4 separate regions of the Homo sapiens genome follow, and regions 1, 3 and 4 are each linked to region 2. Evidence: fine-mapped expression QTL. A gene starts in region 2. Each other region holds a variant in brackets. All regions are shown on one strand. Distances are from middle to middle.

The links. PIP is the estimated chance that this variant, and not a neighbour inherited with it, causes the effect. A credible set is the group of variants that fine-mapping cannot tell apart.
Region 1: its variant is the best candidate, but not a certain one, in a credible set for the expression of SETDB2 in cerebellar hemisphere (GTEx, PIP 0.55).
Region 3: its variant is the best candidate, but not a certain one, in a credible set for the expression of SETDB2 in whole blood (TOPMed, PIP 0.90).
Region 4: its variant is the best candidate, but not a certain one, in a credible set for the expression of SETDB2 in iPS cells (HipSci, PIP 0.82).

Annotation. Positions count from the first base shown.
Region 1 is chr13:49,486,201-49,494,308 of GRCh38, forward strand. It overlaps SETDB2-PHF11 (SETDB2-PHF11 readthrough), which reads left to right. Exons shown (of 21, transcript NR_135324.2): 12 at 4,622-4,710. It overlaps SETDB2 (SET domain bifurcated histone lysine methyltransferase 2), which reads left to right. Exons shown (of 14, transcript NM_001160308.3): 12 at 2,090-2,430; 13 at 4,622-4,710; 14 at 5,532-8,108. The coding sequence ends at 5,649. It also overlaps the pseudogene SNRPGP14. Among named protein-coding and RNA genes, the nearest start is that of PHF11, 5.7 kb to the right of the region's middle. The variant G/A (reference allele first, on the strand shown) is at 3,538.
Region 2 is chr13:49,441,010-49,449,117 of GRCh38, forward strand. It overlaps SETDB2 (SET domain bifurcated histone lysine methyltransferase 2), which reads left to right and starts at 3,265. Exons shown (of 14, transcript NM_001160308.3): 1 at 3,265-3,848. CAB39L (calcium binding protein 39 like) reads right to left here and starts at 3,055. Exons shown (of 11, transcript NM_001079670.3): 1 at 2,977-3,055. SETDB2-PHF11 (SETDB2-PHF11 readthrough) reads left to right here and starts at 3,265. Exons shown (of 21, transcript NR_135324.2): 1 at 3,265-3,848. RefSeq lists enhancers at 2,433-2,502, 2,872-3,644, 2,883-2,962, 3,645-4,418 and silencers at 2,971-3,451, 3,123-3,172.
Region 3 is chr13:49,510,743-49,518,832 of GRCh38, forward strand. It overlaps SETDB2-PHF11 (SETDB2-PHF11 readthrough), which reads left to right. Exons shown (of 21, transcript NR_135324.2): 13 at 2,317-2,424; 14 at 7,276-7,409. It overlaps PHF11 (PHD finger protein 11), which reads left to right. Exons shown (of 10, transcript NM_001040443.3): 3 at 2,317-2,424; 4 at 7,276-7,409. Among named protein-coding and RNA genes, the nearest start is that of PHF11, 19 kb to the left of the region's middle. The variant T/C (reference allele first, on the strand shown) is at 5,752.
Region 4 is chr13:49,466,822-49,474,929 of GRCh38, forward strand. SETDB2-PHF11 (SETDB2-PHF11 readthrough) reads left to right here. Exons shown (of 21, transcript NR_135324.2): 5 at 1,043-1,139. It overlaps SETDB2 (SET domain bifurcated histone lysine methyltransferase 2), which reads left to right. Exons shown (of 14, transcript NM_001160308.3): 5 at 1,043-1,139. Among named protein-coding and RNA genes, the nearest start is that of PHF11, 25 kb to the right of the region's middle. The variant A/G (reference allele first, on the strand shown) is at 4,024.

The DNA.
Region 1 (8,108 bases), 45 kb after region 2:
GGGCTGAGGTGGGAGGATTGTTGAGGTCAGGAGTTTGAGGTTACAGTGAACTATGATTGTGCCACGGTACTGCAGCCTGGGCGATAGAACAAGACCCTGTCTCAAAAAAAAAAATAAAATGTAAGTTTTATTGGAATACAGCCAATTTACATTATATATTGTCTGCTTCAACATTACAGCAAGAGTTGAATAATCACAACAGAGACCACCACATGGCCAGCAAAGCCTGAAATATTTGCTATTTTGCCTTCTGCAGGAGAACTTTGCTGACCTCTGGTCTAATTGCCAGTAGTGACTTGATGCATGACAAGAGGGGTGGGCTGGAAAACTCTTGAGTCTTTGTGGTGCACAGGTGTTGTCCGTGGCTTTGGAACCATTGTGCAAAGCAGCCACTTTCAAACTCTTTGTAGACGCCTTTAAAAATAAACACACATCACTTTCCTGCAATTGCCTAGCCAATACTGCCGCAGAGCATACTCAGCTTGACTCTGGCAAAAGGCTAAAATATTGCCACCCTGAGTCCTTGTGTTTCAGAGTTACTAGTCCTTGCCATAGTTAATATTACAACTGGACAAACATTGTTTTTGGTACTTTTGCATTTCACTGTGTCCTTCACAAGGAGACATTGCTGAGAGATATCCGTTTGTGAAGAATTGGTGAGCCACTGCTGTCTCTTCCCCCCTGCAACCGCAGCTCTCCACCTAATATTAAAGGATGGAGATTGGAGGAGACATGGCAGTTCCTTGATAGAAAAGGTCTATCAAAAAAGGGGATTTTGTGTATTATATTTATTTTATCATGCATGTGAGCCACAGTGCATACCGTTGCTTTTGGTTCTTTTGCCCTTTTCATTGACTGCTACAATATATATAGCGGGTACTCCAAAAGTCAAAAGCTACATACTTTTTGTATAAAAAAATCCAAAGTTGTATTATGGCTTACACGTAACCCATGATTAAAATATAAGTACATATAGGAACAGCAGCCAGCAACAACAGTGATGATTAAATCAAGAGCCTCAATTTTAGACAAGTATAATTTCTTTGCGCCATTGAATTAGGTGGTCCAAATAGCTTTGTGGCTCTTTTAAAGTAAGTAATTTATACTTACTCCATCTGACATGCATTCATATCTTTTCTTTTTTTTTTAAAGAGAGACAGCGACTCATTCTGTCACCCAAGCTGGAGTGCAGTGGTGGGATCATAGCTCACTGTACCTTCCAATTCCTGGGCTCAAACAGTCCTCCCACCTCAGTCTCCTGAGCAAACAGGACTACAGGCACACACCCCCTTGTTGGCTAATTTCTTTTTTTTAAAATTTTTTGTAGAGATGGGGTCTCACTTTGTTGCCCAGGCTGGTCTTGAATTCCTGGCCTCAAGCATCCTCCTGCCTTGGCCTCCCAAAGTGCTGGGATTACAGGCATGAGCCACCATGCCCAGCCATATTCATACTCTTGAATACTCTCAAAAAATTATTTTCCTTATTGGATAAGAAAAACGATTAAGCAGTGCATCTGCTTTTAAAGGATTATTGTTTACAAAGGTGTAATTATTGAATGGTCATCTAGTAAAACACCAAACACTAATATGTGCAAAACCCCTAGCAATACAGTTGTCACTGCTGGGACTTGTGGAAGGTGTCTCTGTCAGGGTTAGGCCTTTTATTGGCAGCATAAAGGCCTAGAGTGCCTCCAAAACACCCACTCTGTTACATTTGTTTAGAATATACTTAAGTGCAGATTCCAGAATTAAAGAGAAGAAAGTCAGTTTATTATGAGTAGAGATTAAATATAATAATGAAGAAGCAAGATGTAGATTCATAAAAAGGCATTGTTACGTAGTAGAAAGAAGGCAGACTTTGGGATTCAAACATTTCTAGGTTTGTTACCCCAGTTCTCGTTATTGTGGGTCAGATGAATTCCTTAATCCCTCAGAGAAAGTTTCCTTTATACAATTAAAATAATACTACCTGCCTAACACATTGTAAGGATCGATAATTAAAGCACCTAGCATCTAATTAGTGTTGTTAATTTCAGCACTATTGCTCAGCAAGTATATTTCCTGATGTTTCCTTCCAAAATGTCTATTAGAGGACTCAAGTTCAAACCATGTTGATGAGTTTGAAGATAATCTGCTGATTGAATCAGATGTGATAGATATAACTAAATATAGAGAAGAAACTCCACCAAGGAGCAGATGTAACCAGGCGACCACATTGGATAATCAGAATATTAAAAAGGCAATTGAGGTTCAAATTCAGAAACCCCAAGAGGGACGATCTACAGCATGTCAAAGACAGCAGGTATTTTGTGATGAAGAGTTGCTAAGTGAAACCAAGAATACTTCATCTGATTCTCTAACAAAGTTCAATAAAGGGAATGTGTTTTTATTGGATGCCACAAAAGAAGGAAATGTCGGCCGCTTCCTTAATGTGAGTATAAGGGCTGAGATTCCTATTTCTGAACAACTGTTTTTTTCTATGCTACTTAACAAAATTATGAGGAAAATAAACAGACTCTAAAGTCAGACCATCTGGTTAGAATTCCAGTCCTCCACTTGTATACAGTTGGATGTTTTACTTGACCTCTGATACCTCATTTTCTACCTCTGTAATACAGGGATAAATGATAACTGTCTCAGGATGTTATGAGAATCTAATGAATTAACATTAAGTGCTTAGAACAGTGCCTAGCACATAGTAAACATTTGCTTTTAAAAAACTGTAAGAAATGGTGTATAAGAAAAGTATTTAAATATATCAGATTTAAATAAGCTCACTTACCTGAGTTGAAAAAAATGTATGGCTAGGAAGTTATCAGTGAAGTTAAATGGTGGCAGATATGTCCAAAGAATACTGCAGGGATTTAATGGTGTATTAATATGGAAAGATTGCCACAATATACTGGTTTTTTGGTTTTTATTTTTTGTTTTTTTTGAGACAGAGTCTCACTTTGTCACCAGTGGCACAATCTCAGCTCACTGCAACCTCCGCTTCTGGGGTTCAAGCAATTCTCATGCCTCGGCCTCCTGAGTAGCTGAGATTACAGGCGTTAATGAATCACATGATGAATGTGTGGAGATGGCGGCTAGTGGGCAACAGAGCAATACTGGAATAGTGCTAATATGAGGAAATGGTATCATCTATTTAGAAGCCTCGGAACGACGATACATAATGGCTATCTTCAGCAAAGAAATTTGTTGCTTACAATATCTCCTCTCCAAAAGGCTTGTTTGTTACAGTGATGTAAAAATTAGGTTCTGTACATCTTCATATTAAACTTACTTTGTGAAAACTTTTTGTTTAAAAAAAAAAAAAAAAGCCATACCTTGAGAAGTACTGTGCTCCTGTTCCCATGCCCCGACTCCACCTTCTCTCTGTAGGTCATCATATTTATTCTTTTTTTTTTTTTTTTTTTGAGACCGAGTCTTGCTCTGTCACCAGGCTGGAGTGCAGTGGTGTGATCTCGGCCCACTGCGATCTCCGCCTCCTAGGTTCAAGCGATTCTCCTCATCAGCCTCCTGAGTAGCTGAGATTACA[G/A]GTGTGCACCACCATGCCTGGCTAATTTTTGCATTTTTAGTAGAGACACAATTTCACCATGTTGGTCAGGCTGGTCTTGAACTCCTGACCTCAAGTGATCTGCCTGCCTCGGCCTCCCAAAGTGCTGGGATTACAGGTGTGAGCCACCGCACCTGGCCTTATTTCTCCCGCCCCCCCCCCCTTTTTTTTTTACATAAAACATAGCATATTATATTCACTGTTCTATACTTTGTTTTTCAAATTAACAGTATATTGGGCCAGGCGTGATGTGACTCATGCCTGTAATCCCAGCACTTTGGGAAGCCAAGGCAGGCAGATCACTTGAGGTCAGGAGTTTGAGACCAGCCTGGCCAACACGGCAAAACCCCGTCACTACTAAAAATACAAAAAAAATTAGCCGTGTGTCATGGCACATGCCTATAATCCCAGCTACTTGGGAGGCTGAGGCATGAGAATCACTTGAACCCAGGAGGCGGAGGTTGCAGTGAGCCAGGATCATGCCACTGCACTCCAGCCTGGGCGACAGAGTGAGACTCCGTCTCAAAAAAAAAAAAAAAAAAAAAAATCTTGTGGCAATTCCATATTAATACCCAGAGCTTCTCAAATTGTTTTTATTTGTATGCTTTTGTTTATAGCTGCATAGAATTCTATTGTGTACCAAAGTTTATTTAACCAATCTGCTTTAGGCAAATATTTGGGTTATTTCCAAACCTTTAGCACTAAAAACAATGCTCAATGAATAATTACACATGGAAACATATACAGATGAATCTGTGGAATACAATTCTAGATATGAGATTGCAGAATCAAAAGACAAATGCATTTATAATAATGATAAATATTGACATATTTTATAGGGATTTGTCCCATTTTTGCATTTCTGCCAGCAACATAGAAGAGCGTCAGAACAGGGCTTTTCTGAATGGGTTCCCACTATTAACAGGAGCTGTGATAATTTATACATTGACAAAAAAAGAACAAAATCAGTGTGATATATTAAAAACAGAATGGTTTTCTAATGCAAAAGCACAAGGCATCAGACTTTATGCTATTTCTAACCTTTGTGTTTATTTTTATTTAACAGCATAGTTGTTGCCCAAATCTCTTGGTACAGAATGTTTTTGTAGAAACACACAACAGGAATTTTCCATTGGTGGCATTCTTCACCAACAGGTTTGAAATTGATTTCGCTTACTTAATTCTGAAATTGTGACTTTAAAAATAACAATAGAGGGCTGAGTGCTGTGGCTCATACCTGTAATCCCAGCACTTTGGGAGGCCAAGGTGGGGAGACTGCTTGAGCTCAGGAGTTTAAGACCAGCCAGAGCCACATGGCGAAACCCTGTCTTTACTAAAAAAAATAGAAAAAGTTCACCAGGTTTGGTGGCCAGCTACTCAGGAAGCTGGGGTAGGAGGATCACTTGAGCCCAAGAGGTAGAGTTTGCACCCTGTCTCAAAAAATGATAATTATAATAGAAAAATATTTTTTAAAGATATATACTATAGCCCCAAATATCTGGTACTGTAGAATATTCAATTATCCTAAACTGTTCCTATTCAATAAGATTTTGCACACCTGAAATTTTGACTCTTATTCCCATTTAGAATGAATGCCTGAAAGGGCTGAAGATATCAGGTATCACCCAGTTCCACTCGGGATAAATGATGCAGAGTGCTACATAATCTTTAATTCAGAGCTATTCCCCAGCTACTTCCACACTGCAGGCCTCAACACATGACTGGGTCCCACTGTTGGCAAAATACACTTCTTCCTCATATTGATAGGTTCCTTCTTACTTAACATTTTAGTAGATTTGAAATAAAACTCAAATGGTTATTCTTAATAAAAGGTCATTCCTAATTGGTGGATGTTGGGTGAGAGAACAGATCATATTTTTGAGGATGGTTAATGTTAATATGAAAATTGATATAATTTGGTTCATTGGTAGTTATTTAGGGTATTTTATGATTCTTTTCAAATTTCTACTTTCTAGGTATGTGAAAGCAAGAACAGAGCTAACATGGGATTATGGCTATGAAGCTGGGACTGTGCCTGAGAAGGAAATCTTCTGCCAATGTGGGGTTAATAAATGTAGAAAAAAAATATTATAAATATGTAACTAACGCCTGTTTGTGAAATTAGCTTATCAGGCTGAAATTAAAGCCATGCAAAAGAAGGTCTAGGTCCATCAAGGAAATTCCCCTCCGTTTTCCTTTGTCATGGGGTTTATGTTTTATTTCAGATTTTATTTGTGTGACTTAGAAATTCCAGGAACACAATTAGGATATTTTCATACACATAGGGTATCTTGTTCACTGCTGTGCTACTTTACATGAGTAGGATGGAAGTGTATATTTTATATGAAATACCACTGTACAATTTATAATTTATTTACAAATTATATATTAAGAGAAACAAATGTCATAACAGAACTCAGCTGTTTCTAATTGCTTTTGTGACTGTTACCTTTTAGTTCATGCCCCCCCAAAGAGCTAAATTTCACATTTTTACCTACAAAATTGATTTTTAATTCCTGGCAAATAATTTACCATTATGAGCTACAAGGTGGGCAACAGCGCCTGAGGATCTAATTTTATGCATATTACTCCCAAGTATTTTAACACTTGTTGGAGAAGCAATATCTGGATCGATAAAACACTGTCCCATCAACCATTTGAGTGGGGAGAGGGAGAAGCTCTTCTGTAAGTAAGATTCTGGCAAGCTCTTTGAAATGAGTCTTCTTTCCCACAGATTTTCTCTACTCTTTCTATACAAACAGATAGGAGAAGAGGGAATAGAAACCTGGAGGAACTTGAATATTTTTGTTCTAGATAGAGATACAGTTACTGAAAAGGAAACCTAGAAAGTAGTCACACGTTGCTTATTTAGGCCAGAAGTAATTGTACTGGGCAAAAATTTCACTTAAAAAACACAAGAAGTCCAGGTATGGTGGCTCAGACCTGTAATCCCAGCACTTTGAGAGGCCGAGGCAGGTGGATTACTTGAGCCTAGGGGTTCAAGACCAGCTTGGGCAACATGTCAAAACCCTGTCTCTACAAAAAATACAAAAATTAGCCTGGCATGATGGCATGTGCCCGTAGTCTCAGCTACTCAGGAGTGAGGTGGGAGGATCATTTGAGCTCAGAAGGTCAAGGCTGCAATGAGACATAATTTCACCATAGTACTTCCAGCCTGGGCAATAGAGCAAGACTCTCTCTCAAAAAAAACAGCACACACACACACACACGAAAACAATTCTGAACTATGAAATCTGAAACAGCCCCTTGGTATCTCCTGGGCATGATTTGCAAATCTTTTTTTTTTACAGAAAAAAGGCAAAGAGTAAGCACTTTGCCATAGGTTACTTGGCCGTGATCATCTATCTAGTGGAAAAGGGGACTGGGAAGCCCAAGCAGACTGGGAAACCAGACAGCTAGGAAAAGGAGCAAAACATAGCCCAGCAACCTACAGATGAAGAAAGTTGAGAAATCCATTTATTCACCATAGAGACGCAGGAATTTCAGGCAATGCACTAAAATGAAATGGGGGAAAAAAGCTTGATCAGTATGGGAACCATTTTTGTGCAAAAGGGAATATTATGGATCAGCCAGTATTTCTTTGAGCTCTGCCTGTGGAGTCCATTTGACCTTTAGAAATATGAGGTATTCTGTCAGTTTTATCTTCTTGGAGAAATTTCTCCTAAAATCTTGATTTGCTTTAGTCTGGACTGGTTCATAGCCATCATCTTCCATCAGTACCCCAGAGATTCACTTTGTCTCTTATGTGGGATCTGTTTCCAGTTAGATGCCATTATTTTCCTTTTCCTTGGTTTACTCTTCCACATATTGGTAAAGCTCTTCCAATAGCTTTTGGAAAGGAAAAATGAAAAGTAAATGTTTTGAATCTCTGTGTGTTTGACAATGTCTTTATTTTACCCTTATACCTGATTGCTGTTTTGGTTGGCAAGGTATAGGATTCTTTAGTGGTCTCCATGCCCAGTTTTGAAGACATCTGCTAGCTTTCAGTGCTGTTGCTGTGGAGTCTGAAAATCTGTCTTCTGGCTTCCAGGGTGACTACTGGAAATTGAATGCCATTCTGTTCCTTCTCTTTTGCATATATAATCCATTTTTATCTCTCTTGAAGCTTATAGGTTTATCTTTGTCTCAATGTTCTGTCCCTGTTAAGAGTCCATTTTCATCCTTTGTACTAGGTGCCTGGTGGGATCATTCCGTCTGAAACTAATGATTTCCCATCTCTTCACTGTTTCTGGAATTCCTGTTTTCCAGATGTTAGACCTCCAGAATTTGATCTCTAATTTTCCTATCTTTTCTCTTAACTTTCAGCTCTGTCTTCTTGCTAGGACCTTTTCCTAGGAGCATTTCTCAATTTAATCTTCCAGTTCATCTGTTGCATTTTATTTTTCTAGTCTCATATTGTCTCATATTTTTAATTTCTAAGAGCTCCCCTTCTCCGAATATTCTTTTTTTTTAATAGCATCCTATTTTGGCTCATGGTTGCAGTATTTTATCTCCTTGAAGATGTTTGTGTGTTTATGTATGTATATGCACAC
Region 2 (8,108 bases):
ACTTCCTACGTATCTCATGTCTGAGCTCTTATTTCTGAATTTATGTGGTTCTTTCAAAGATTTCATCTTTTCCTTAAATTCTCTTAGCTTACTCTGAAATATTTAGATTGTCATTTTCATCTGCTTTGTGGCCACATTTTTGGGGTATGTTTTCATAATCTCGTGCAATGTTTTATGGCTTATTTTGATGATTTTCTTATAATGATTTAGTGTATATATATATATATATATATATTCCCTTTTCCCATATATTTATATAACTATATACTAAAAGGAGGTTCCCGGCTAGGTACAGTGGCTTATGCCTATAATGCTAGCACTTCGGGAAGCCAAAGCAGGAGGATCACTGGAGTCCAGGAGTTTGAGACCAGCCTGGGCAACATAGCAAGATGCCATCTCTCCAAAAAATTAGCCAGGCATGGTGGCACATATCTATAGTCCCAGCTACTCTTGAGGCTGAGGAGGGAGGTTCACTTGAGCCTGGGGGGTCAAGGCTGCAGTAAGCTGTGATCATGCCACTGTATTCCAGCCTGGGCAACATAGCGAGATCCCATCTCTAAAGAAAATAAAAAGGAGGTTCCTATGTTACACTGTATGGACATGCTGGAGTTTAAAAAAATCTATTTCCTAGTGGAATCTGGTTGTTTCCAGTTTTGGCCATTACAAATAAAATCGCTATAAATATTTGCAGAGCAGCCAATATAGGTTTTCATTTCACTTTTCATCAGAGAAGCATACAATCATCAAAGGGGAAATTAAAACCACAATGAGATACCCCATCATACCTCATATAAAGGCTAAATATTTTAACTGATAATGCCAAGTGCTGACAAGGATGAAAAACTACTGGAACTCTCTTATCTTGGTGGTAAATTTCAATCTAGAGTGGGCTTGCCAGATCATGTGATAAGGATATGATTAATTTTATAATAAACTGTCAAATTGTCTTCTAGGTGGCTGTACTATTTGCAGTCTCACCAGCAAGACTAAGGTTTCTCCTTGTTTTGCATCCTTGCCAGGAAATGTATTGTTTGTTTTGACATTCTGAGTAAGAGGTTGTGTAGTATCTCACTGTGGTTTTAATTTGCATTTTTCCAATGACGGTGGTTTTAATTTGCATTTTCCCAATGACTATTCTATACTTCTTTCATTTAACACAAAATGGTAACCACTTTCCTATGTCATTCAACAGCCTATGCCACTACTCTTTGAAAACGTTCCTTTTAAAAGGCTGAAAAATATAATGATGGGATGTGTCATAATTTATAAAACCATTCTTCTACCATTAGATATTTGTTATTTCCAATTTTTCACAAGAACAAAATTACACTGTGATTATAAAGCTTTGATTCTATCTCTATTTCCTTACAAGTTTCTTAGAAAAGGTCAAAAGGTATATGAACTTTTGTTTCTCCATGCATTTTGACAAGCCAACTGGAAGATACAAGTCAAGTGGAAGATACAAGCATGGAATCAAGTAATTAAGAAAAATGATTCTCAGGCCAGGTGCCGTGGCTCACACCTGTAATCCCAGCACTTTGGGAGGTGGAGGCGGGCAGATCATCTAAAGTCAGGAGTTCAAGACCAGCCTGGCCAACATGGTGAAACCCCATCTCTACTAAAAATACAAAAATTAGCTGGGCGTGATGGCCGGTGTCTGTAGTCCCAGCTACTCAGGAGGCTGAGGCAGGAGAATCGCTTGAACCACGGAGGCAGAGTTGCAGTGAGCCGAGATTGCACCATTGCACTCCAGCATAGGCGACAAGAGACTCCATCTCAAAAAAAAAAAAAAAAAAAAAAAAAAAAAAAACATCAATTATTTTGCTGTTTGTTTTGTTTTTTGGTATTCCTGATGCGAGATGTCTTTATCATGTATTGTTGATTAGGTTGTTCATCAGTTAATCTTGAATAACTGAAATCTAAGCTGAAGGCAATAATACATCGGCTTTCTTTTCATGCAAGTCAAACTGCTAAAATCTACCACAAAATATTAGCCTTTCATCAGCTTGGTCTTCAGATCCAATACATTTTCCCCTCAAATGAAAGACAATGCAATGCCATCCACAACAATGCTAAAAAAAAAAAAAAAAAAGGAGGAGGGAAACAAGGTTAAGTCCTGTCTTCTTCCTCCTACCCCAAAAAGAGCTCAGAAATTAAGGTGCTTTCCCTAACAAAGCCTCCTCCTGCTCCATGAAGTGACCAAGCATGTCATGGCAGACCCAGAGATTTATAATCTTCAACATATCGTTATCGGGGAAATCAAGATTTGACAAAATTCTTCCTTCACGCCCCGTTTCTGCAAGACCACCACTTTCTAGCTTAAAATAAAGAAAAAAAAAAGACAGCTGCAGGAATGCTTGGCTGCCCGCTAATGTACAATTTTGCCCAAACGCAGAACTTGACGCCCACTATTACCAAAGGATGGCCTTAGTAAAGTAACCCCCGCGAAGAGCAAACTGTTTAGCAGCCGCTCCCTCGAAAAGGACGGAAGAGGAGGTCTCTTCTGAACCTGAGGATAGTAGAGAGGCACTCCCCTTCCACTACTAGCTTTGCTCCTTTCTCAATCAGGCAGTTCATCAGCTAGCCTCCTTTGTCAAAGGGGGTTGATGGTCAGAATCTTTGCGAGACAAAAATTACTAAAAGAGCTCCCAGGAACCAATGTTAAGGCATCAAAGGCCCCGCCCAGCCCCCACAATGATCAACAAACCAAAACCTGGGATCCCTACTATTACCACCACCACAACCATCACCACCACCACCACCACCATTCCTCGCTCTCTCTAGCCAGGGATGAGACTCAGGCCCAGGAAACCCATCCTTTCCGCAAGTAGGAAGGCGCTGGGTCTCCTCCCTTAGGCCTCTCCTTTACCCCATTGTTCTCTCCGGACCCCTCCACTACGGCCAGGCGCTATGTATGTTTTCAACCCCCAAGAAGCCCAGTCCCAGCCACACACAAGATGGCAGCCTCACACCTACCGGAGGAAACAGCTGCGCCACCACTCCAGTGATGCCGGCCTCTCGACTACGAGTAACTCCATTGGCTCAGCTACAGTGCGCGAGACAAGCCGAGAGCGCTAGCAGTCAATCGGGAGGCGGCGCGCTCGGGCGCCACTGCGGTGCCAGCGGTAAGTGCGCCGAGTCTCTGAGGCGTGAACCAGTGGGGAGTGCGACCAATCAATGGGCTCCTGGCTGGGTGGTGGGACGGCCGGCGTCCGACTCCTCCCATGTAGTGATCGGTTTAGGTAGGTCGGCCTGGTCCCCGGCGGAGGTTACGCCTTCCCTCATCCCCGGTAGAGGCAGGGCGGGACTGTTGTGGTTGAGATGAAGGCTAGTAAATGGTGAAGTACTTCCCGGCCAGAGGGCACCTGCGCTCGGGAGGTTTGGGCGGCTTGGCGTCGGAGGAGAGCCCCACCCGCGGAGGAACCCAGCCTTGCCAACGGAGCTGGCGGAGCTCACTCCTCAGGTCAGGCGGGCGGCGTAGAAAACGCAGCGGAGCCAGGTGAAACCAAGGCACCGCCGTGGCTGGCCCCCGACAGTTCCTCTAGCCGGGAGGTTGGAGGAGCTGAAAACGCCGCGGAGCCCTCGGCCGCCCGAGCAGGGGCTGGACCCCAGCCCTTGCAGCCTCCCTTCTCCTGGCACCCAAGTGCAGTCCTGGCTGCAGAAGGGGCCGCGGGCGCACTGAGTTTCCAACCTCCATTTCAGCCTGTCTGTCTCAGGGTGCAGCCTTAATGAGAGGTGATTCCTAAGCTGCTGGGAACCTGAGGTTGTCAAAGGGGCGGCAGGAAATGGACAGCAGTATAAAACCCAGAAGCAGAACTTGAAGGTTAAACCACTAGCCCATTTCACAGGTAAGATTACACGAGCCCTTAAATACAGCAAGTTCAGTCATTCATCCAAGATCATGGAGTTCAGATTAGATAGTAACACTTCTGACTCGCTATCAGCCACAGCCCAATAAGTAATTAAGTAAGGAAAGATATGTAATTAACTGTGCTCTTTGGCATGTGGAAACCTGCAGTGAGCTCTGTAAATACTAACACATGAGGCCAAGGAGAGGAGTAAATTTGAAGAGGTCAAATGGAGTAACCAAAGCATAGGCTCTGAAACCATGCTGCCTGGTTCCTTATTTCGTGTCTGCCACTTACGGTATGGCATTCCTTAGCTTCCTCATCAGCAAACGAGCTGCTAATTTAACCCACATGACTGTTAGGGGGATTAAATAAGAACACGTGAAGTAGTTAGAAGCGTGACTAACCCGTGGTTCTTAAGCGTGACTTAACCCGTGGTTCTGTCGTTACAATTAAAACGTAAGGAGCCGAGAGGAAATGGTAAACGTGTTTTTAAAGCCTGTTTTAGAAACGAAAAGGAACCATACATTGAAGCAAAGCAGACTGGCTTAATTATTTTTCTACCAAAATGAAAAAGTGAGAAGGGGAAAAAAGTTTTTTAAGCCCATTTACTCTCTGAAATATTAACACCAGTTGTCTCTGGATGATGGGATGGTGTTTAAATTTTCTCCTTTATGCTTTATTGTATTTTGCAGATTTTCTCCAGGAAACATGTTTTACTTGTGCACGTTCAGTTTTCAAATTTTCAGGTGTGAACGCTGGTGAGAGCTGCTTAAAAACAAAGCTATGGGCCGGGCGCGGTGGCTCACACCTGTAATCCCCACACTTTGGGAGGCTGAGGCGGGCGGATCACCTGAGGTCAGGAGTTCAAGACCAGCCTGGCCAACGTGGTGAAACCCCGTCTCCACTAAAAACACAAAAATTAGCCGGGCGTGTGGTGGCGGGCCCCTGTAATCCCAGCTTCTCGGGAGGCTGAGGCAGGAGAATCGCTTGAACCCGGGAGGCAGAGGCTGCAGTGAGCCGAGATCACGCCACTGCACCCTTCTCACTGCACTGGTGACAGAGCGAGACTCCGTCTCAAAAAAAAAAAAAAAATCTATGGCCGTGCGCGGTGGGTGGCTCACATCTATAATCCCAGCACTTTGGCAGATCACTTGAGCCCAGAGTTCAAGACCAACCTGGGCAACATAGACCTCATGTCTAAAAAAAAATAAAACTATTACTGAGTGTGCTTAGGTGGAAGTATAAATTGGTAGAACCTTTCTGGAAGAGAGTTTGACAATATGCTATAAAAAGCTTTAAAATGAATTCCTTTTTGAACATTTATATATACTTAATTTTTAAAAATTAAGTACACTTTTACATTCTTTTACAGAATTGGTACCTTGTAGATAAAGAGCACAATCCAGATTTTGACCTTGAGTTTTTTCTTGCGTGTCAAGGTTATACTTATAAAAACAGTTGAATAGCTTCCCGTATTTTTCCTTCTTGAAAGTTCGTATATGATAAAAATTCTCCGTTCTTTGAAAGTTTTGTACAAGGAATGTTCCCTCACTCCTCTCCCTCCCTACTCCCGCTGGAGACTTTGGTACAGAGCTTTCAAGTGTTTTTTAATACTTACACCTTTTAATACTGTTACATATTCTATATAGGTGAATATATACATTTGTAATTTTTTAGTGGAAAAATACTATACTACATCATTCTGTAGCTTTATTTCTTGACATTGTTTTTGCAGCCTGTACATGTTATTTATAGCTCATTATGTTATTTATGGATCATTTCTTTTACCTGCTGCATAGTGTTCCAGTGTATGACTGAATTGATCTGTTAATATAAAACATTTCTTTGTCTCTTTTATTGGTCTTGTTGTTAAATCCTATTTTGTTTGATGTGTGCTGTATAGCACATTTTATTGCCATTCTCTGAGAACATTAGGTTTCCAGTTTTTCACCATACAACAATGCTGCAAGGAAAATCTTTGTGTTTTCTTGTGCACATGTGCTATTTCTCTAGGATATATACCTAAAAGTGGAATTGCTTGGTTTTAAGTTGTGAGCATTTTTAGTTTTAATAGGTCATGCTAAATTTGCCTCCAAAAATACCTCTACTAATTTACATGTTCCACAGGTAGTTTATGAGAGTTAAGTTTCTCTACAGTTTAGACTAACATGAGATATTATCTTCTTCATTTTTGCCTAGTGATGGCTGCAAATTATATTTTTAATTTTAATTTTCATTCTGTGATCTAAGATTGAAGTGTCTATTATGTTTGTTAACCTATAATTTATATGCATTTCTATAGTTTTTTAAAAACATGTTTAAGTTCTTTATGTGTCCTCGATACTGTATTTTTAGAAGTCTCTTTGGTGTGTATGGTTAATTATGCCTCCTTTTTGTTGCTATTGTTAAAATATGTTAAAAACATTTTCTCTTAGCTTCTTGCTTGGCTTTTGACTTTTTGTTAACTTATTTGTTCTACAGATGGATTTTCCTCTGCCAATCTTTAGGCCTCTTTTTATCTTACTGAATTTCTCTAAGACTTCCAGTACAGTATTGAATAAAAACAGTGATAGCAACTGTCTTCATCTTGTGCCTAATAAAAATTCTCCGAATGTTTCATCATTGAGTATGATGTTTGCTGTCATTGAGTAGGATGTTTTGGTAGATAGCCTCGATCAGAATAAGAAAGTTCTCTTTTTTCCTAATTTGCTAAGGGGCCCCCCCACCTTCCATGGAATAATTTTATATTGAATTGTTTTGTTTTTCTGCATGAAGTGATAGTTTTCCTCCCTTTGCCTGTTAATATAAGCATTCACATTGATAAACTTTTCATGTTAAACTTTTTAGGTATTCTTGGGATAAACTATTTTGGTAATACATTCTTATTCTACTGCTGGATACCTTTATTCAGTATTTTTGTGTCTAAGACCCAGTAGTGATTTGGGCCTTGAGTTTTTTTCTTGCATGTCAAGGTTATACTTATCTCATAAAAAAAAGTTGAGTAGCTTCCCATATTTTTCCTGCTTCAGAACAGTTTGTATATGATAAAAATTAGCCGTTCTCTGAAAGTTTTGTACAATTCATCTGTAAAAGTTTATGGACCTAGTGTACTAGCAGTGAAAAAAATTTCATATCTCATAAAAAAAAATTGAGTAACTGCTTAAGAAAAAGTTGAGTAGCTTCCCATATTTTTCCTGCTTCAGAACAGGTTTGTGTTTGATAAAAATTATCTATTCTTTGAAAGTTTTGTACAATTCATCTGTAAAACTTAATGGACCTAGTGAACTAGCAGTGAGGGGTGGGGATGTGTGGCACACATCTCTAGTAATATCTTCAGTGTTTTGAGCCTATTTGGTAATTTATATTTTCCTAGAAAATTGTTCAGTTCGTCTGTGCTCAGGTTCATTGACATAAAACTGTCTGAATTTTAAAATGTTTAAAATCTCTTCAGTAGCTAGAGATCTATCTTCATTTGTTATTATTTATTTTGTTGCTTTTTTCCCAGCTTCTTTAATTGAATGTTTAAGTCAATATTTTCATTTTGCTAATAAAATTTATTTAAGGCCTAAATATCTCTTGGCATGCTGCTTTGGCAAAATCCTTCAGGCTTTGAAATGTATTACTTCAACCGATCACCATTTCTAAATGTTCTTAAATTTCTCCTTTGATTTCTTCTGTAAACCATATACATTATTTGGGAAATTTGATTTTTTAATTTCCGCAGGTAGTATGGGGTGGGGGGTTGATTTACTACATTCAGTGACTATGCTCTGTGTAAACAGTCTTTTGGAATTTGTTGATAATTCCTTTTGGTCTCATAATAGTTTTTGTAAATTTCATGCTTTTCCTCCCACAAGAAGTATTTTCTGTTGGGTGCAGGGTTCTATATATTTTTTGGATTAAGCTTGTTAATTTGTCATTTAAATCCTTTATACTCTGGTTTTTTACCCACTTTATCTCAGTTCCTTAGATTTGTTACTTCATCACCAAATTGTGGATCTGTGCATTTTCCTTTTAATTTTGCTTTATATATTTCAGAGTGATGTTATTTGTACATAAAGGGTCATGAATATTAAATCTGGTGAATTGTTCTGTCAGCATAAAATATTTGTGTCTTTTATTGATTTTCATATTCAACTCTTATTTGATACGTTTCTTCTTATAATTGCAGATGTCTTTTTCCAGTCTCTTCGTTTTCAGCCTTGCTGTGACATTTTGTGTAATTTAAGTGGGTCTCTTATTTTAAAATATCATATC
Region 3 (8,090 bases), 70 kb after region 2:
TTAGAGGCGTGAGCTACCGCTCCCAGCCCAATCGTGATGTTTTTATTCTAATATACTGTTGATGTTGATTTGCTACTATTTTTTAGTTAACTTTATTGGCATAATTTACATAAAATCAAATGTACCCATTTTAAGTGTCCAATTCAGAAAGTTTTGAGACATGTTGAGACCCATGCAACCACTACCACCATCAAGATATAAACATTTCCATTACCCCAAAGGGTTTCCTCAATGTTCTGTGCAATCAATTCCTTCCTACCCCAAGTCCCTGTAGATTTGTCTTATCTTTTCTCAGATTTCATATGAAAGGAATCCTATAGTTGTCCTCCTTTGTGTCACTTCCTTTGCTCAGCATACTGTTTTAGATGCATCTATGTTGCATGTATCTGTATCTTGTTCCTTTATCATTCTTCACAGTACTTAATTGGTATGCATGTATCACAATTTGCTTATTCATTCATCTGTTGGTAGACATGTGTTATTTCCAGTTTGGAGCTCTTATGATAAAAATCAGCTATAAGCATCTGTATATGAGTCTTTGTGTCTTTATTTAGGCCTTTCATAATTTCAAAATTGTTCAATGGCTTTTTTTTTTTTTTTTGAGACGGAGTTTCGCTTTTTTTGCCCAGGCTGGAGTGTGATGGCGCGATCTCGGCTCACTGCACCCTCCGCCTCACAGGTTCAAGCAGTTCTCCTGCCTCAGCCTCGCGAGTAGCTGGGATTACAGGCACCTGCCACCATGCCCAGCTAATTTTTTGTATTTTTAGTAGGGATGGGGTTTCACCATGTTGGCCTGACTGGTCTCGATCTCCTGACCTCAGGTGATCCACCTGCCTTGGTCTCCCAAAGTGTTGGGATTACAGGCGTGAGCCACCGCACCCGGCTATTCAGTAATTTTTATCTGTAGAGGTATAGAACTTGGGGTTAGGCATATTCTGGGCTTGTTTTTTGTTTTGTTTTGTTACTTTTTTCTAAAGTATTTTTAAATGAGCTATTATCAGTATATATGAACACTATTGATTTTTATTTATTGGTCTCATCCAGCAACCTTACCAAACTCTTATCAGTTCTAAAAAGTCTCTAGATTTACCTGGATATATTGTATGTGGACAATCCTCATCTTTAAATAAGGACAATTTTAATTTGGGGCACTCAGTCTCCTTTTCTTGTTTGGTTATGTTTGTCTTGGGTAAATAGCTAGAAGTAGAATTACTGAGTCATAAAGTTAGTGTATGTTTAACCTTAAAAGTGATTGCATTATTTTACATTTCTACCAATAATATGTAAGAATTTCATTTGCTCCACATCCTCATCAACACTGGGTCTTGTTATTTTAGGCAGTCTAGTAGATATATATTGCATCTCACTATGGCTTTAATATGCCTAAGGGTTAATGATATTGAGCATCTTCTCATGTGCTCATTTGCCATTCATAAACCTTCTTTCATGAAGTGTCTATTCAAATTTTGTGCCCACTTTTAATTGAATTGTCTTATTATTGAGTTGTAAGTGTTTTCTAAAATCTGGATACAAGTCTTTTGTCAGAGATATGTATTGTGAATATTTTCTCCCAGTCTCTGGCTTGCCTCTTTGTTTTCTTAGCAATGTCTTTCAAAGACAATTTTTATTTTGATGGAATCCAACTTACTTTTTCTTTATGCTTTCTGATTTTTATAAGAAATCTTCGCCTATGCCAATGTCACCAAAATTTACTCTTATGTTTCTCATGCCCTTTTGTTATTTGAGTGTAATATGTGAAACATTGATCTTCAATTCAGATTTGGAGTCTTCTGGTTTCAAGTAGCACATAGAGACTTGAGCCAGCCTAAACATAAAAGAGGGTTTATGATAAGGTTTTGGGGGCATTTCATGTTTCCTAAAGGCAGGCATGCAGGTGGGTGTAAGAAACAGCTAGAAAGCCATTGGGAACCTAGAATGTCCTCTTTCTAGCCCTTGTTTTTCTTTCTTTGCAGACTGACTTGCTCTAACCACGTGGCTTCAGCTATTGCTCAAAGCCCATTCCACACTTTTAGGATAGGGGATCAGACTGACCCAGCTTGGCATCAGGGTTCCACCCAGGTCAATGAGTTATTAGAGGTCAGGATTACAAAGTATAAAACATGCCCGGAAACCAGGGTCATTCCCAGAGAAATGGGATGGCTTATGGTCTGCTCATCCACCCCCAAAGTTGCCACTGTTTTACCCCCAGTCCATTTCCCACTCCTGGTTTGATTTTCCACTTTTGGTATGATTTTCTGACATGTAGCTTTCAATATTACTTTGTGCATACTCTGGATTTTTTTTTCCAATCTGCAGCTGTATTCTTCAGGACTTGTGGAATGTGAGGATCAGGATCCACTTAATCCTGATAGAAGTTTTGATGTGGAATCAGTAAAGAAAGAAATCCAGAGAGGAAGGAAGTTGGTAAGTGTAAATGATGTTATTTCTTATACTGGATGAACAGACCCTCAAGGAATGCATTCCAAAGGAGTCTATTTGACTGATACACCAGGGATAGAGAAGCATCTTGGAGAGCTGGAAGAAGTAGGAACTGTATTGGAAACCTCAATTCAACTTAACATTTAATTTTTTTTTTTTTTTTTTTGAGACGGAGTTTTGCTCTTGTTGCCCAGGCTAGAGTGCAGTGACACGGTCTCAGCTCACTGCAACCTCCGCCTCCTGGGTTCAAGCGATTCTCCTGCCTCAGCCTCCCGAGTAGCTAGGATTACAGGCACGGGCCACCATGCTCGGCAAATTTTTGTATTTTTAGTAGAGACAGGGTTTCACCATGTTGGCCAGGCTGGTCGCGAACTCCTGACCTCAGGTGATCTGCCTGCCTTGGCTTCCCAAAGTGCTGGGATTACAGGTGTGAGCCACCACGCCCGGCCAACATTTAATATTTTAAAATAAACTACCATATACTTCACCAGTAAAGTGATCTGAGTTAGAATGCTTTTGCTGTAAGTAGAAGAAAGCTCAAGTCAAACAGACTTTTACAAAGAGGATACTTACTTTTTCACTTGATCAGAGAAAACACCTGCTTTCCAAGTTGGTTGATTGAGTGGCTTGATAATGTCATCAGGGGCCCAGGTTCTTCCTCTCTGGCCTCCTGTCCCCAACATCAGCTGGTCCCATTGTGGTCATAGGGTGGCCGCAGGCAGCAACTGAAGCATCAGGCTTTCTTGTTCATACCCAGTGAAAGACAAAGGTCATCCATACACATGGAATAAGCCCCCTTCTGAAAGTTTCATTAGGTTGCACCCCTCTTTCTGCACCAACTGCTGGGGGTGGCCATAACTAATCAGGGGTCAGCTCCTCATGGGTCATAAGGGGGCTATTCAAGGAGGAAGAAATGCTGAGAAGTCATTCCACTGGGCTTATTGCAGCGACATCCTCTCAAGGACCCTTCACATCTTAGCAAGCAGGACAGCAAGTGTGAGCACCTCACATTCTGACTACAACCACAGGGTTAATAACCAGGGACAAATGTATAGTTAGTCTTTGCAAGGCATCAGCATCAGCAGCATCCTGTGGTAGGTGTGTTACATACATTGCTCTAGGTAAACTCCCAGCTATAGGTAAAATGATGCCCATTTTAATCGAAGAAATGGAAAGTGCAGGGTGAAAGGCAACAGTCCAGATGGAATTCTGCAAATTATGCTATCTTAGGCAGTGTACACAATACTGTAGTAGGTCCTGAAGCAAGCCATAAAAATGGACTGTGTGTGGCCCGGGCATGGTGCTGCATGCCTCTAATCCCAGCACTTTGGGAAGCCAAGGCAGTTGAGGACTGCTTGAGCCCAGGAATTTGAGACCAACCTGGGCAATATAGTGGGACCCTGTCTTTACCAAAAAAGAAAAAAAAATTAGCCCGACACAGTGGCATATACCTGTAGTCCCAGCTACTTGGGAGGCTGAGGTAGGAGGATTGGGTGAGCCTGGAAAGTCGAGGCTGCAGTGAGCTGTGATCACACCACTGTACTCCAGCCTGGGCAACAGAGTGAGACTCTGTCTCAAATTAAAAAAAAAAAAAAAGAGTGTGTGGATCCTGCTCTCAATGTCTATGCTATTACTAATTAATACTTGGCAAGACTGGCTGCTGACATCATTAGTGCTGACAATGCCACATCCCTAGGATTTTGGGTGTGATGAGATGGGTGAACTGATTAGAAAGTAGCAGACAGACCTCAACTGGAATATTTTTTTGCTCTTCACTAATTGGATTTGAGTGGGGAGACACAGAGTTAAAGAAATCTCTGTGAAATTCTAGTAGCCATCCAGTTATGAAGAGACCCAGGCTGAGAAATGAGGGCAGTTGATTGGAGGCATAATATTTGGGGGAAAGCAGGTACCTGAGGGTTTCTGCGGACCTTGGGATGCAGACTTCCCTACTGGGAAGGCTTTGGGATGGGTTGGAAGTGGAGGATAAAGGAGAGAAGAGAGGAAAGTCACCTGAGGTAATAGTTACCCTCTCACAGCATTTATGGAACTCTTGGACTATGTGGGCAGATACATGGCACACACCCAGGGTGGGGACAGGCCAGTGCTGTGGTATTTTCAGTAAGCTGGGCAAGTACCTTGAGGGTGAGCAGCAGGGGCCCTCAGCAAGCAGGCTCCTCCCTAGGATTCAGACTACCAATCTGACAGAGCCACATGGACATCCAATAGCATTTCAGAGTAAAGTGGCCAAAAAAGTACAGTTCCATCTCCTATACACACACACACACACACACACACACACACACACACACACACACACACATTCTCCATCTAAATCTGCTCATAAAAACAGCACTATCATTATCCATTTGCCCAAGCCAGAAGTCTAAGGACTCTCTTTTCCTCGTCAACCTCCCAGCCCAACACCAAGCCCATGGGCACGAACTCCTAGGTGCATCTTGCATTCATCCACCCACTTCTCTCAGCGTCAGTAATCCACCATAGCGGAGTCACCCATCTTGTTCTCTAAAGCGAGTACTGACACTCGCCCGACTGTCTCTCCTGCCATCCCTACCCCAGCCCGTAGTTCTCCACCCAGCAGCAGCCCAGCAGCCTGAGTGATCTTTCAATAATGTTAATCAGTTTATGTTCCCCGTGCAGAAAGATAAAACCCAACTCCTTACTCTGGCATGTAAGTCCTACGTGACCCAGCCCTTACTTACCCCTTTGATCATCCTGAGACTTCCCTGTGCCCACTTCGCTGCTCCAACAGCACTGGCCATCTGTCTTGTCCTCGCTGTAGCTTGCCAATGGGGAAGCTCATTCTTGCGGCCAAGACCCAAGGCCCTCTGCTTAGAATGTCTTTCCTCCTCCTTTTTGCATCTGGGAGCTCTTACTATTATTCAGATCTCAGCTTCCATATCACCTCCTTAGAGGTGACCCATTTTACTAACTGCCCAGTCTGAAGTAGGGACCCAGTGACACTGTCACTTCACCCTATTTTAATTCGATATAATGTGTATATAACTTTGTGAGACGTTTTAAACTTTGCTTTATTTGATCATTGTACCTTGTCTCCAATAGAATGTAAGCTTCACGTGGACAGGCATCTTTTCTGCTTTGTCCACTACTGTTTTCCCTTATCCTAAAACCATGCCTGCCACATCATAGCTACTGCATGCTAAATAAATACTATATACTCATGTATTTTTAAATGAATAAATGTTTATTAGCCATTTGTATTTTTTCTTCTGTAATTTGCCAGTTACCATTTTTCTGCAGGTTATCAGAATCTTAAAACTTTATCTAGTA[T/C]GCTACAAACATTCTTCTTTCAATCTTTTCCTTGTCTTTTAAATATTTTGAATGCCCTCACTATAAAATGGAAGTTTAAAATTTTTGTATAGTAGGTTCTGTCAGTTTTTGTTTTTGAAACAGATTCTCCGTCTGTCGCCCAGGCTGGAGTGCAATCACAGCTCACCGCAGCCTTGATTTCCTGGCCCCAAGCCATCTTCTGGCTTCAGCCTCCCAAATAGCTGGGACTACAGGAGTGTGCCACTATGCCCCGCTGATTTTTAAAGTTTTTTGTAGAGATGAGGTCTCACTGTGTTGCTCAAGCTGGTCTCGAACTCCTGGGCTCAAGCAATCCTCCTGCCTCAGCCTCCCAAAGTACTAGGATTACAGGCATGGGCCACCATGCCCAGCCTGTCAGAGTTTTCATTTGTGGCTTCTGGGTTTTCTTCCTGCCTTAGACAGCCTTCCTTGCCTCCATACTACGCTTTTTTTCTTTCTCCTATATTTCCTAATCTTTAAGAGTTTTTTGTTTAACATTGTTATCTGGTTCGAGCTTTAATCCATGTACAACTTATTCAGGAGTATATTGTGAGGTAGGGATCTAACTTTATTTTTTTCCTATATACATAGCCAGTTACCCTCCTCCCAAATTAAATGATCGTTCTTGTATGCTCTGATTTGAATTTCCACCGTTATCATAACCTTATTTCTTGCCTATATTTGAATTTCCTTTAACTGTTTCTATGCTTGCTTGTGCCGACCCTGGGCTATGGTGTGAGTGACCTCCTGTTCTGCAAGGCAATTTCACTGTGCCCCCACGTCATTCAGCCAGAGTATCATGCTGATCAGCCTTGGTCCTGGCTGGATTCCCCTAAACCAGTTAGGCTGCTGTGGCCACACACTGCCTAGCCATCATGACACCACTGTCACATATAAAATACCAGATAGATAAATACAAGCCAGGGATCAAATAAATTGAACCAAGAAAAAACTGTTAATAGAGTTGTAGAATTTTTAAAAATTTTTGGCCCTACTACCTAGATTCCCTTACTTTATCTCACATTATCCTCAATGGCAACTCTGTAAGACAGATATTATCACCCACAGCAGGTTCTGAGTCCGAAAGAGAAATCACACCACTCTCCGTGGCACAGCCAGCGACCAATCTCGCCTGTCTCAAAGGGCCCCCTAGTGGGGCCCCTTGCCTGGAGCTGGACAAGTTTGCCCACTCTGCTTTTTAGAAAATTCTTTTTAAAAGACAGAGACTGTTTTTTTGAAACAAAAAGCATTTTTCTGCTTTTAATCAGATCATTACAAAACTGTCTGTCCAAGCATTCCGGTTAGCTGAGGTTTCGCTGAAATTCCCAAATGAGCAGCCAAATATAAGTACTGTACCCTAATGTTTGTAACGGGATGGAATCTTGCTGATGATGCCCAGGATAAAATGCAGGGCTTCTGGAACTTAAATAACATTTAATGATATCTTTGAATTTTAACAAATAACAACAAACAGGTACTTACTCAGTAAAATCTATTCTTCTGTAGAAATGCAAATTTTGTCATAAAAGAGGAGCCACCGTGGGATGTGATTTAAAAAACTGTAACAAGAATTACCACTTTTTCTGTGCCAAGAAGGACGACGCAGTTCCACAGTCTGATGGAGTTCGAGGAATTTATAAGTATTTAATAAAACATTTTTAAAACCACATTTGGGGGATTGGGATAAGGAATGGTTGGATTAAGACAAGGAGACTTTGAAGACTAATTTTATGTAAATGGTTTTCAAATGAGAACAAAGCCAGTTTGGGGGATGCACAGGGGTTATGTGAATTTTGAATTTCAGTGAAAAATCTATATATATATATATATTATTTTAGTCACAATATCTTGAATAATGAGATCAATGTTAGGACAGCATGTTTTTTTAAATATGATTTTTGTGAGCTATGTTACATTCGTAAGATGATTTTTAAAAATTCCATTCAGAGGCTGATGTTTTTCCTGCCAGTGGGCATATATTCCTAATTTTCCCATAGTGTTCCAGGCACTATTTTATTTATTTATTTAATAACCACTTGCTTTATGCCAGGCATAGTTCTAAGTGCTTTACAAATGTTAACTCATTTAATCCTCATAATAGTCAACTGAGGTAGATACTATTATCTCCATTTTCCAGAGGAGGAAACTGGGGCCTTGAGACACTCAGTGACTTGTCCCCAGGTTACACAGCTGGTCAGTGGCAGAGCTGGGCTGCAGGACTTCCAAGTCCTCGCTCTTTGCCACCTTGTTGTCTTCAGGTATGGGGACTATATATTCTAAAACAAGAGGGCAAGCCTACCATTGAAAGAAGCTTGCTAAAT
Region 4 (8,108 bases), 26 kb after region 2:
TTTTTTTTTTCTGTCGTAGAGACAGGGCCTTGTTCTGTTGCTCAGGGGGGCCTTAAACTCCTGGCCTCAAGTAATCTTCCCACTTTATCCTTCCAAAGTGATGGGATTACAGGGATGAACCTTGTGCTTGGCTCAGCTATCAGATTTTAAACCTTTCTTTACTTGGAAAATTAAAGACAGATATTTGTTTTTCAGTTAGCCAAGGAGCAACCTTGAAATACAATATCCTTTTATTAAACTTCTTTTGAGGGGGAAAGTAAGTTATAATTTTTTTATTAGAAAATAAATATACTGGGCCAGGCATGGTGGCTCATACCTGTAATCCCAGCCCTTTGGGAGGCCCAGGTGCACGGATCACTTGAGGTCAGGAGTTCGAGATCAGCCTGGCCAACATAAAATCCTGTCTCTACTAAAACTACAAAAATTAGCCCAGCATGGTTTTGCATGCCTGTAATCCCAACTACTGGAGAGGCTGCGGCAGGAGAATCGTTTGAACCTAGGAGGTAGAGGTTGCAGTGAGCCAAGATCATACCACTGCACTCCACCCTGGGCGACAGAGTGAATGAGACTCTGTCTCAAAAAAAAAGAAATGTGAACAACTAGATCAAAAGAGATACCCAGATACTTCATCCCCTCCCTAAAATAGTTGTAGAGCAATAGGAAAACAAAAGGTACATAAATTTTTCATTTTCTGACTTTTATAGAGCCTTTAAGAATTATGTGATTTCTCTATAAAATGCATGCAGAAGTAGGGATACTCAATGTCCACCTTAAAGATTGGTTAAGCTTCAAATCAAGTTCAGGCCAAACTAGAGTTTCTACAGTAGAAATCTTTTCTGTCCTCAGTATTTTATCCTAGTTTATTCATATTTTTGAAAATATTGACACTTAATCTTTTGCCTCAATCTTGAAACCTTACTATGTTTGCAAATTTTAGGGATCCATATGGGCAGACTCTAGTCAATGAACATATTACTTGGGTACTTATAGCAAATGGTTTTTAACTTGGTATATTTGTTGCTCACATTATTTTTTTGTGTAGATCCTATGCCTGTGACTCAGAAGGAACAGGAAAACAAATCCAATGCATTTCCCTCTACATCATGTGAAAACTCCTTTCCAGAAGACTGTACATTTCTGTATGTATATAAATTCTTTGTTATTAATGCTTTTGCTCCTACAGATTTCTTCTTTATAAATCACTTGACATTAGAATAGATGAAATATACAAAAAAATTTTTCCCATTAAAGCTTTAAAAGTTGTATATTTTAGTATTTTATGTAAGATAGAATTTCATGAGTCTCTGAATAGGTTATTGAATATTCCTAGTTAATCAAGTCTTTTTATAAAGTTTAGCTTAAGATGTCTTTGTGTATTTTATTAATACACTGAAATCTACCAAGTAGTGTGTTTTTGTTTTGTTTTGTTTTTTGTTTTACTGCTTAGATTATCTGGAGAATTTAAAAGTGTCAAAATGTTTCTTTCAGTATCAGTTGAGTTTTCAAAATGCGTAACAGCTCTTAAGTAGTGTCTAAAAGTTTATGGGAATAGACTAAATTTTTCTGACCTTCCCTTTCTCATTTTATCATTACTTTCCATAAAGATTCTTTGGCATAAAGGAGATGTGCGGAAGAGTGAATCTAGATACTCTGACACGTAGTCTTTATTTTTAGTAGGTAATACCTGGGCCTAACCCTTCAAGTACTAATTACAGGGAAGTTTCTGAAAGTTCTCTAGAGTAGAGAACATAGTTTCAAAAAACAAAGAAGTATCTTTAGAAAGAAACTTCTTTGTTACCCTAATTTCATTTGTTCTTTCAGCTTAATATTAAATTGACTAAGAAAAACTATATAATTATTTTTTTGATTTTCATGCCTGTGAGAGTTGTAGATAGACACTGTTTCATATAATTTGGATTTACAAATATTAGAGATGTCATTGCAGTTTGAGTGGGTCTCAAAAGGCCCATAAAATTACTTTAAAATGCTCACAGAGAAAGCTAAGTTCACACTTTAGCTCCTTAATTGGCCATTTCAGTGGCTCACAAAACATTTTTTTTTCTAGAAATTCTGACCTTTGAATATACAGTGTAAAATTTTGTAAGTTTTTAGGAACAAATTCACTCAGTCTAAATCTAAATTAAATTTTCATGTAAATTACCACCAAACAAGCTCTCTACCAAACAGTTATCTATATATTTAGATATTATATTTTAAACTTAAATGCAGGAGTGGTTTATTCCTGTGAAGTATCATTTTTTGCTTTAAGTTCATTATACCAGCTTATCAGAATCTTTTTGAATTTTGGAATATTTTTTGTCCCTTTTAGCTTATCATCTTGTACAAATAAATAAGCTTTCTAATCTTCATTATGGTCACTGAAAACAATATTGAACAGGACATGACCAAAGATAAAAACCTTGTGGCTGGCTCACTACTAGACATTCTTTTTATTACGCTTCAGAAAGAACGCTTTAAGCAACTGTGAATTTACTTCTACTGTTGTCCCGCCTACACTTCTCACTTACAAAGTGGTCATGAAAAATCAAGGTTCACTGCCATAGCATTCTGTGGCATTGCCAGACATTATTCAGACTTATTGAAAACGTTGTCAAAAAAGAAAATTCAGTTAATTTGGATTTTTCTCACCTACTTGTTAACTCAGCACCTAGTGTTGGTTGGCCTTTTAAATTCAAAATATTTAGAAGCCACACCCTTGATGCCTTCTTCTAGAGATTTTTAAGAGACCAGTGTTAAGCTAACCTTTCTATATTTTCTGTAGCCTGTCCTCCTTCCCTTTTTAAAAATCAGGGCAGCTAGAACTTGAGGATAAGTGGTCAAAGAAAAAATCAGGGCAGTATTATTTTATTTTTAATTTTTCTATATTTGAAGTTTTTTTTTCCAGACCTTGAGATTTAATTTGTAGAGTCTTCTATATGCTTAAATAAACTTGAGTTCTAGTACCCTCTCTTTAACTGTCACAGACTTCAGTTTCTTTTTATTTTTTTCCTCTTGTTTCCAACTTGAGAGCCATACTTAAAGATGGAAAAGACAAAGGCAGAATTGTTTTTGAGAAACTCTTCCTTCTCTTTGTTATCAGTTAACCTTATTTTTCTCCTAACAGATTATTTTCTTGTTCTAAGCATAGCTTTAGTTGTTTTTTGTTGTTGTTATTTTATTAGCACTTTTGGAAACCTCGGTTCTTACTAGGCTTTGTGATACTTTTCTTACAGTTTCGTACCAATGTTGCGTATTCATAATTAGCTGTCTTCTTTTGTATGTATACTTTTAAAAATCCGAGCTTCCAAGAAAAATTGAGTTGGTTTCTTTAACTGTTTTCCCATCTCTTTAGGACTGTTTATGATTATATAATCAGAATTTCATTTCCTTAATCTCCCATCTCTCTTGTACTGTGTTGACACTCAGAGGCTTTTTTTGAGATTATACCTAACTTTTGAGTTGAGCATTCTGAGATCTTTTCAGATGAAGGGACATGTCTTATTAGGCTTAGGATTTTCTTCCTTTGCCATTAAGAATTCCAAGGAAGCATTTCATTCTTGACTGGAATTATGTTTAAATAATTCCTTTTATATTTCCTCTGCAGGCCAGAAGTTTATTTGCTTATTTTATTTTCAGTACTTAAACCCTCTTAGCAGCCCAGTGGTCACATAGGTTGCCTAGTAAACTAAACATTCAATAACTTAAGCCAGGAATTCTTAGCCCCAGCTAAACTGCTCAAGATTAGGCTGAGCATGGTGGCTCACACCTGTAATCCCAGCACTTCGGGAGGTTGAGGCAGGAGGATCACTTGAGCCCAAAATTTCAAGACTAGCCTGGGCAACATGGCAAAACCCCATCTCTACAAAAAGTAACAAAAATTAGCCGGGCTTGGTGGCACATGCCTGTGGTCCCAGCTACTTGGGAGGCTGAGGTGTATCACCTAAGTCCAGAAGATCAAGGCTGCAGCAAGCCATGATCGCGCCTCCGCACTCTAGCTTGGGTGACAGAGTGAGACCCTATTTC[A/G]AAAAAAGATTATACAAACTATCAACGGCAAACCCCAGGATGAAATCTTGGGTCTAATAGGACACAGGCTTCAGGCTTTTGGTGTTTTTTTGTGGGGTTTTTTTGTTTTCTTTCTTTCTTTCTTTTTTTTTTTTTTTTTTGAGACAGCAGGGTCTCACTGTCTCGCTGGGTGGACTGCAGTGGCACATAGCCACAGCTCACTGTAGGCTTGACGCCCTAAGCTCAAGCGATCCTTCCTCCTCAGACTCTCAAGTAGCTAGGACTACAGGTGCATACCACCACACCTGGCTAATTTTTAACATTTTTTTTTTTTGTAGCGATGTGGTCTCACTATGTTGCCCAGGCAGGTCGTGAACTCCTAGTCTCAAGCAGTCCTCCCTCCTCAGCTTCCCAAAGTGCTGGGATTACAGGCATGAGCCACCACACCCAGCCAGTATTCTATTCTTGAGTTGAACTGAATTTCTACTCCACATAAGTGAGTTATGACATAGGTAAATGTAAAAACAAAAGTATTACTTCAGTGATAATTCTTTTAAAAGGATATTTACTTTTGTGATTTTAGAAGTCTGAATTCCCTTTTTTTTTTTTTTTTTGGTCAAGTATAAACTTTGGTTTGTCAGGAGTACATACCTATTCAAGCTAGCTTAAGTAGTGGAATTTATTAGAAGTGTACGAGGTGTGCAGCTTTGGTTAGCATACTGGGTGACACTGGGCTTGCACCACTGCTTAAAGACACAGGTGTAAATTTAAGCCATTAAATTTTTATGGCTTTTTACATGACATGCACACAAACCCAAAAGATTATTTTTAAAAACATGCACACACATGTACCTACACATACATACACACATATATAAATAAAATAGGTCTTGAAGAACAGAAAATGTAACACAGCAGGCCATGTAAACACTAAAATAGGAACTTAAAAGTCAATACCTAAGGTCAGGGTTGACACAGTCTCAACTCTACTTCTCTCTGTTACCAGTAGGTTTCTTCTCTTCCCACATGACCAAACATAGCTGCCCCAGCTAAACTCTAACCTTCTAGTGCAAGTGTTATCTCATGTGACATATATATATATATATATATATTTTTTTTTTTTTTTAAATAGAGACAGGGTCTAGTCATGTTGCCCAGGCTGATCTTGATCTCCTGGGCTCAATGAATCCTCCCACCTCGGCCTGCCACAGTGCTGGGATTACAGGCATGAGCCACCGCACCCAACCATTTTTTTTAATATCTTAATTTAAATTATTGAAAGAGACAGTATAAAAAGCCCAGTATGTATACAAGACCCAACATCTTTGAGTACACTGAAATTAATATACCTGCCTTTCAGAAGAGGATGACTAAAGAAGGGACTGAGCAAAATACCAGATTTACCTACTGCAGTCTTTAGATGAATACAGTATACATTCTTGTTTTAAAATATGCCCCCTTAATGGTCATAGAGGATAGAATGACTTCTTACTTTAGCCTTGCCAAAAGCTAGATAATCAGTTGGCAGCCTCTAAGCCATGCTCCACTTTGATGTTCAGAGTGACTAACAACACCCTGAACAATTGTCAAATCATATGCAAACTGAGAAATCCTTACCCAGAGGCTGGCAAGCAGGTCCAGACAGCCGTGGACTTCTCCTTCTCACTACTTACTCCTTATCCTGTGTTTACCTCTAGCACTTTTAATCAATGACTGGGTTTACAATACTGTGCATAGAATTGGTTTTATTTCTATTTTTTTTTTCAGTAATGTATCTTCACACCTAAATAAAGTTAACCCTCCTCTCCATAAAATTGGGATGAAATTAGGTTACTTTATACTTAAGACTTGTAAGTTGGGTTTTTTCCTTCTCTTTAGTAAAATGAAGCACAGATAAGAAATTAATCTTTTCTAAGGTTCACACTAGTGTTTTATTTTTATGCTTTTCTCCTCCTCTTCTGTTTTTTTCTCTTCTCCTCCCACTCCTCCCTAACTCTTCTTAAATGTAAAACATGTATTTCTCAGTGTTAATTGCTCAGTAACTAGAGTCTTGTATCTCCTAGTTTTTATTAGTCATAAGGAGAATACTTTTAATCTAGTTTGGCTTTCTTGAAATGTAAATTCCAAATTACAAGTTTTACCAGCATATTTACTATTACAAATTTTAGTCCTAAGTAGTTCTAATTGTATATTGTTCCAGTAGTGGCTAACTTGGAGTTGTATTTGTTGTGTCATATGAGGAAATTATGTAAAGGACATTAAACTACTATTCAAATATTAGTAGTTACTTAAGAACTAAGGATAACCCAGATACTTTCTCTCTCACATATATCCTGAATTAATCCCTTCATATTCCAAGAAAAATTTATTGAGTCATCTACATTAATATTTAATGTTCCCCTTCCTCCAAAGAGCAAAACAGGAACCAAAAAATTCATACCCGAGGCCAGGTGCGGTGGCTCATGCTTGTAATCCTAGTACTTTGGGAGGCCAAGGCAGGCAGATCACTTGAGCTCAGGAGTTTGAGGCTAGCCTGGGCAACATGGTGAGACCCCATCTCTACCAAAAAAGCAAAAAATTAGCTGGGCTTTGTGACGCATGCCTTTCGTCCCAGCTACTCGAGAGGCTGAGGTGGGAGGATTGCATGAGCCCAGGAGGCAGATGTTGTGGGGAACCAAGATTGCACCACTGCACTCCAGCCTGGGTGACAGAGTAAGACCCTGTCTCCAAAAAAAAAAAAAAAAAAAAAATTCATAGGCAAAATGTCAAATGACATTTACAGAATAATATACTACAGAATCCAGTTTGAAACATATTTATTTGGTTAAGTCAAGTTGAAAAGGACAACAGAACAGTTTACTATCTCTATAAATCTGTAAGTGTATAAGTAACTTGAGAGTGAGTAACCTATATCAAAACAAAGAACAAGGCCATGAGAACCTAAGGAATGTATTACAGTGAATTCTGAATGAAAGAAAATAGGGTGTTTTATCTCAGAGAGACAAATAAATAGAAAATCCAGAGTTCAGGTTATACCATAATTCCTTATAAGAAAAAGTGGTAAGAAGGAACTTGACACCTAATAATAGGGAACAAGTAGGTTCCAGGTACCACCTTTGAAAAACAGGAAGATACTGGATACTAAAATAAATCAAGGGCCAGGCATGGTGGCTCACACCTATAACCCCAGCACTTTGGGAGGCCGAGGTGGGTGGATCACTTGAGGTCAAGAGTTTGAGACCAGCCTGGCCCACATGGCAAAACCCTGTCTGTACTAAAAATACAAAAATTAGCTGGATGTGGTGGCACATGCCTGTAATCCCAGCTACTTGGGAGGCTAAGGCACAAGAATTGCTTGAAGCTGGGAAGCAGAGGTTGCAGTGAGCTGAGGTCATGCCACTGCACTCCAGCCTGGGCAATAGATTGAAACTCACTCTCTCTCAAAAAAAAAAGATTTCTAAATAAATTATAGTATATCCTTTTACCTGTTAGACTCTGAAATCCAAAAGCATCAAGATCCACCTGATTGATGAAACTCTGTGAAAACAGGCACTCTCATTTATTGCTGAAGAAACTGACACTATGGAGAACAATTTGGCAATATTAATGAAATAACTAACCCATTTGCCTTGTGACCTAGCACTCCCACTTCTGGGAATATGTTCTGCAACAGTATCTAACAGTATCTTTACGTGTATGAAATTGTTATTAATAGATTCATAATTTTATAGCAAAGATTATTACAATAAAATTACTTATTAAAAGATCACTGTATAAGTTTACTGTATACGTTCTAAAAGATCACTGTGTAAGTTAACTAGTCCATTATTGTGGTCTAGCCTATACTACATGTTATGGAAAATTGTCCATTATTGCAGGCTAGGTAATTAAATTGTGGACTTACGCAAAGGATTACTATACAGTCGGAGAAAGGATGAGGAAGCTCCATATCTGCACATCCAGTATGGTAGCCACTAGCTGCATGTGGCTGTTTAAATCTGAATTAATCAAAATTAGATAAAATGTAAAAATTCAGTTCTTTGGTCGTGCTAGCTACATTTAAAAGTGCTCAGTAACCACATGTGCCCACTGGCTACCATATCGGA